2 separate regions of the Homo sapiens genome follow, and region 1 is linked to region 2. Evidence: fine-mapped expression QTL. Tissue or cell type: monocytes after interferon gamma. Region 2 holds a variant in brackets; the other region holds the start of a gene. All regions are shown on one strand. Distances are from middle to middle.

Region 1 (2,912 bases), 32 kb after region 2:
CATTATCTTTGGACTCCAAGGCCCTGGTATACTGGCCTGCACACGGTAGGTTTGGCAAATGTTGAATGAATGTATGGAATGGATGCATCTCCCTCTTTGGTGAAATCAATAACTTAGTTTGTTGAGTGTTTATTATTCTCTTGGGTTTAGTCTTTAGGGAAGAGGACAGAAGTCATACTCATTTCACAGGCCAAATATTGACAATGCATGGAGGCCAAAGAAACTTTTGTTTTACAACGCATCTCTTTCCTAAAATTGTATCTGGGATGGGGACAGAGAGGCAGAATTTCAGACAAAAGGAAAGACTTGGTCAGATTTTCCTGTACAGCTGCCTCTCCAGCCCAGCACTGGGTGAAGGGCAGGCACATCAGACTAAGTGGTTGATGCAACTGAACCAGTTTAAAGGCTGGTAAGACGCTTGCAGAAGTCTTTAGATAGAACTTGCAAACCATTTGCAAAAGGGTTAGGAACAGGTTGCATCAATGCTATGTTTAAGTCCTGCTCTTTGTAACTCAAGGCTCTCCCATTATCTAACAGAACTTCAGAATGAGGGTTCCTTAAAATTAGCTTCAGGTCCTTATGAGCTGTAGCTGAGCAAATGAAATGCAACTGCTTTAGAAGGGAGGAGCTTCCAAGATGCTCCAGTGGTCTTTTCCTTCCCTTCCTCGTATAACGCAATCGGTGGCACAATCCCGCTAAGTAGCATGGCATGCTGGCTGCCGGTGTTCTGTTAAATTAGGGTGAGTGCTTGTCTGTGCTTCAGTTTCCCTTTCGGTTAGGCAGGACTGGTCTTCCCACTAGCTATCATCTATAGTTTACTTAACTCTATTATCATATGATGAATCCCGTAAAGCTCTTCAGAATGTTAGGGAAACAGGTCCTATTATGTCCCCCACTCTACCTTCATGGGTGGGATGGGGGGTCTGGGGGTGGGACCACTGAGAGTCAAAGAAGTTAGGAAGTAATCTGTGTCACAGCAAGCTCCCTGGAAACTCTCAGAATAGCAAACAGGTTTCCTCTCCGCCCCTGGCTCCACGCCATATTTTCGTTTTGGCTAGTTCCTTAGCTCCAGAGAAAATCTGGCTTCACCTAGAATGGTTTAGAAACACCTAAGCCCGCGATGCTTTCCGGAGGGTCTCAGGCCTTAGCTTTCTCAGTAAAAAACAGAATTTCCATGTGTCCCCTTCAAAGCGCTCCTACCGGCAGCTGGAGTAAGGTAACTCCACCGCCGACCTCCGAGGAGTTCATGTGGACTCAGCCCAGGCGCAGAGAGGAAGACTCCTGAGAGTCCTCGCGAAGGAGGGAAACACACCAGAACTAAAGTTGTGAAGGCGCAAGAGGCTACTTAGGAATAATTCCTTGTATCTCTGGGGCAGGTCTCATCCTTCTAAAGACAGGAGTGACTGGGCGTCTTCTTCCAAACAGAGGGCGCTTAAAAATGTATTTTTAAAAAACATAACAGAAAGTCCTGAAACTCACCTTTCGGTCCGCGGAAGGGCTTCCTGCAGGCCCAGGGAATCTCCTGGTTGCTGCCCCGTCTGACAGCGCCCCGGGCCCTGGAGGGAGGTGTGGGTTCCTTTTTGGTTGCCTCTGCACTCCCACCCCGAGCCAGGTCTGGCGTGTAGGGCCCCGGCGCCGGCCAAGGTCGTGGGAGCCGCCCGCCCCGCCCCGCCCCGCCCCGCTCCACCCCCGCGCGTACCTGCCGCTGCCGCCGAGGGCAGCGCCCTCTGTGTTCCCTGCCTTCCTACGGGCCGACGCCTGGCATAGTTGAGGTTTCGCTCCAACTCTGTCCTGCCCCTGATGTCACAGGCACAACTTCCTGAATCTGGCTCGCCGTTCCGCCCGCTCCAGGGGCTCGGCCCAGGCTTTCCACCCTGGGCCAGCCCACCTCGGGTGCCTCTGGCCTTGGGCGCACACGCCCCAGACGCGCCCTCCCTCCCCGTCTTCCCGCCGGTGGCTCCCCACTCCCCGCCCCCCGCCATTACGTGTCCTTGCCCCCTCAGTCCCGGAACACGCCTCCTTCAGGACACAGCGGCTGCGGAGCCAGCCCCGGTGTCTCTCACAGACGCACCAGTGTTCCAGGAATGGGACACAGAACTCCGGGCAAACCCGGCTTCAGGGAAAACAGCTGCCTAAATAGAGGGCCTTCCTGGAAGGGGTGGGAGGCGTTGGAGAGGGATACCATGCGGCAGGTTGGGTGAAGGCTCCGATGTCTTATCGGGACAAATGAGCATGACAGTCCCCTCTAGCCAACGCCGGTTGCTCCAAGGGGTGCAGGTGACATCTCAGAAGAGTCTTTGTCTCTGCTGCCTGGAGGCGCTAAGGAAAACTGCGCCCCAGGAGCTGTCTGTCACAAGCAAATGACGGAGGGGAAAGCTGACTTCAAAAAGTTCTCAGGGGTTCTTCCCTCTCATCCTCAGCTGCTCTCCATCTACTTTCTATTCAGATCTCTTGGCTCTAGTTCCGAGCACATGGGATGCTAGGAAATGAAAAGACCTGCGCCCCTTTGAATAGGGGACTCCAGACACAAAGCTCTGATGATTCAGAGCTTGTTCAGTGCCTCCAGGGATACTGTGGGTGGGAAAAGAGGGGGATGCCAGGACCTGGCTGTGGATCATTTCAGGGGCCTCCTCAGTGTCATCCTGGGAGGTCCTCCCTGACAAGGGCCTGAAATGCTGTTCCCTCGACTGTATTTGCCAGGTACACAGGTACCAGGTGCCAGGTGCTGAACCAGGACTTGCCCTCCATCGACTGTGCCTGAGTATGGGTGTCCTTTGGCTTCTCCAAGTGGGCATTAAAATGACTGCTGCAACCAACTGTCACAACTGAGATTCAAGAGATTCCTTTCTGTTTATTCAGGAGAAACCACGTGGCTCTGAGTTGAAAGGCCAAAGAGAAAACCCACCATCCAG
Region 2 (2,912 bases):
GTCACCTACATGTGCTCTCCAGCATTAAACACCCAATTTCATCCATTGCAGCAATTAGTGGGCTCACTTAGAAGAGAAGATCACTCGGGGAGAACTGGTGAGGTATTACAAGCTTACCCTTAACAACATCACATATCCAACAGTAACCACAGTTAGTTATAAGTACCTACTGTGTGCAAGGCACTTGCCTGAGCTTCAATATAAATATAAATAAACCTCTTTATAGCTTCATCCTACTTTCATTTAAACTCTGTTACCTCTGCATCCCACCTGTGCCATACCGTGCACACATCACAACCTTATGACATCACTTCCAGTGTTGCCTTCTGTGAGACTGCACTGATGATTGTCTAGTTCCTTCCCTGCTGGAAACTTTGGTTATATAGGAGATACCTAGCTCAGGTGTAGCATCTCCTCACCCTTTCCATCTGTAAACATTGCACAGGTACACAGTTGCAGTCCACTGACATAAATGAGTGGGCTTCCATAATTTTCTAGCAGTCACCACCAAGAGCTCTTTGTTCTTGCTTGGAGAAAGGCACTTTGCTGAGTGGTTTGCGGGGGTAATGTTTCACAGAGAGGTCTTGGATCACATTAAACACCTCTCAGTGGCAATGAGGACGGACTTTGTCATGAGTTACAAGAAAAGAGCTTTCAATGAATTTTGAACCATCACACTTTAAACATCTTGGCACAGGTGAGGGGTCAGAGGCACAGAAACTTGGTGTGTCTGTATCAAGACACACAAGGGTGGGGACTGTAGCAGGTTGCTGGAATGTCCAATTATGAGTACTTCCAGTAAAAGTTTATGTGTAGAGTTAGAAATAGGAAAGCATGCATCTGTAACCTGAGTGGTTTATGGAATAGATGGTGTATGGGGGCCTTGCTGGTTAGGAAATTGTATATATGTGTCTGAATCTGGCAAGGCTTTCCCATGAGACATTTTTGTGACTGTAGATAATGTACTTCCCTGCACAAAGTACATAGCCAATGACCATTTGATGAGCAGAATATACTTGCCCACGTACCTGCTACCTGAATTTGTGTGTGTGTGTGTTACGTGCATGTGCACACACTTGGGAACCATATTGAGATGTATGGATAAATGTTCTTTGTGCTTTGCATGTGGGGTATGCCAGAGACAGGTGGGAGGCATGCCTGGGTCTGCAGTAAGGAGCATTGCTATTGGACACATAGCTGCCAAGACAGTATCCAAGAATTGTCCACGTGGTCCCTGGGACTGCCCTCCACTGGGACACTTAGTCTGAGGTTTGTTCCTTGGTTGAGTAGTTACTCTGTGGACATGGACATAGTGCATTATTTCAGGGGTTCCTGAAATGTCTGTGTGTGGTCAGAAGGAGGCTTAGCCCCAGAAAGGAAACACCTCTGCTTCCTGCCTAACTAAACAGGCAGTGATGGTCTCTTCTCCATCTGGAGAAGCTTGGGTTGAGCAGAGATCCAGAGGTCTTCTTCATCCTTCTTCTTCTTCTTCTTCTT[C/T]TTCTTCTTGTTCTTCTCTGGCTGCTGGCCCCTCTTGCCTGGTGGGCTCCAGCAGCAATGGCAACAGATGAAGAGGAGTGTGATGATCACCAAGAGTGGCAGGCCCAGGAGGACTCCCAGGCAGATGGTGTTGTAGATGCCTTCTTGGTGTTTGGTCAAGATGGTGTCCCAGATAGAGCTGAAGAAGGCACTGATTCTCTCCATGGTGCTTGGCTAGATTAGGGCCAGAGAACCCTCTCGGCTTACAAGCAGGTCCTGGGCTCAAAAGGATGCAACCTTGACCACTTGTAATTTATTCCTCTTCCAGCTTTGGGTTTGGGCATGCCACTGGCAGCACCTGAAGAGATTAAAACAGACAACTGAAGAGAAATGCAGGGGGACTGGTCTACAATTTTAATAGTGTCATAGATTTTAGGCTTAGGAAAGGGGAAGGAATTGAAGATTTCCAGGGTTCAGTAAACTTGTATTGACTCAATAAACAAGATAAATGCATGCATGTAATCAATAAGCATCAACTAATTCTTGCTATGTACACACATTATATTGGGCTTAGGATATAAAAATGAATAGTATATCAGGTCTGGCACGTAGGAAGTTCTCAGTAGTTGTTGGATAAATGAATCAATGTGTGTGTTCAGTGTTCTGATAAGGGGTTGCTTCCCTGGACCCTTCTGCAACAGCAGTTCTCAATCTTTTTTCCACTGTAGCTCACCTGACAGATGTTGAACACACACTCCCCACAGGACAGGTCTGTATGTAACCTTTTATTAACATAACTTGCCATTTTCAAAGCTTATTGAAGCTTAAGCACAAAGTGAGATGTCTACTTCTTGCTGTCTGTAGTAGGGAACCTGGGTCTCCTCTGGGCTAAGAGGTCATCAGTCCTCATCCTGCCCCATGCCTGCTTTCCGTGCTGTCCCCTCATGATCTCTTCCCTGCTCCATGTCTCCTCCCCTCCTTATATCACATTCCTGTGCCTGAGAAGTCCTCTCCTCCCAAGGCTGAGAGAACCAGGGGTGACCATTTGCTGGCTTTCCACTTTCTACCTTCTACCTTCCTCTTCCTCATTACCCTTCTCTATGTTTTCTATTCCTTGACCAAATACTCCAAAGTCTCCTGCTCTCTTTCTTCTCTATGGGAGAGGAGTCCTTGCAGGCTGCTTAGTGATGGTGCTTGGAAACCAGAGTGAGGTTCCTGGGTGCCTCCCTGTTCCTGTTCTGAACTCAGCATACAGCTGGGGCCATTCTCCTGGTTGCTTGTACAGAGCTGCCCCTCTTCCCTGGTCACCCCTCCACATATATCTTAAAGCTCAGCTCTCAAGTATAAGGTCTTAGAGGCTGCCTTCCATTCTGGAATTACAGGTTCTTGTGTACAAACAAGACTTCAAGGACAGGCATGATTCAAGGAAATTTAAG

Direction of the effects. Alleles are on the strand shown, and positions count from the first base shown. SD is a standard deviation of normalised expression in the study named.
With allele T in place of C in region 2, the expression in monocytes after interferon gamma of the gene that starts at base 1,616 in region 1 is higher (large effect, 1.1 SD a copy in Fairfax 2014).

Evidence for each region. PIP is the estimated chance that this variant, and not a neighbour inherited with it, causes the effect.
Region 1: KIAA0040 starts here. The variant in region 2 is fine-mapped to the expression of KIAA0040 in monocytes after interferon gamma (Fairfax 2014, PIP 0.95).

What each region holds. Positions count from the first base shown.
Region 1 is chr1:175,191,161-175,194,072 of GRCh38, forward strand. It overlaps KIAA0040, which reads right to left and starts at 1,616. Exons shown (of 4, transcript NM_014656.3): 1 at 1,480-1,616. RefSeq lists enhancers at 819-868, 1,009-1,058, 1,299-1,448, 2,169-2,278.
Region 2 is chr1:175,159,313-175,162,224 of GRCh38, forward strand. It overlaps KIAA0040, which reads right to left. Exons shown (of 4, transcript NM_014656.3): 4 at 1-1,834. The coding sequence starts at 1,701. The coding sequence ends at 1,402. Among named protein-coding and RNA genes, the nearest start is that of KIAA0040, 32 kb to the right of the region's middle. The variant C/T (reference allele first, on the strand shown) is at 1,498.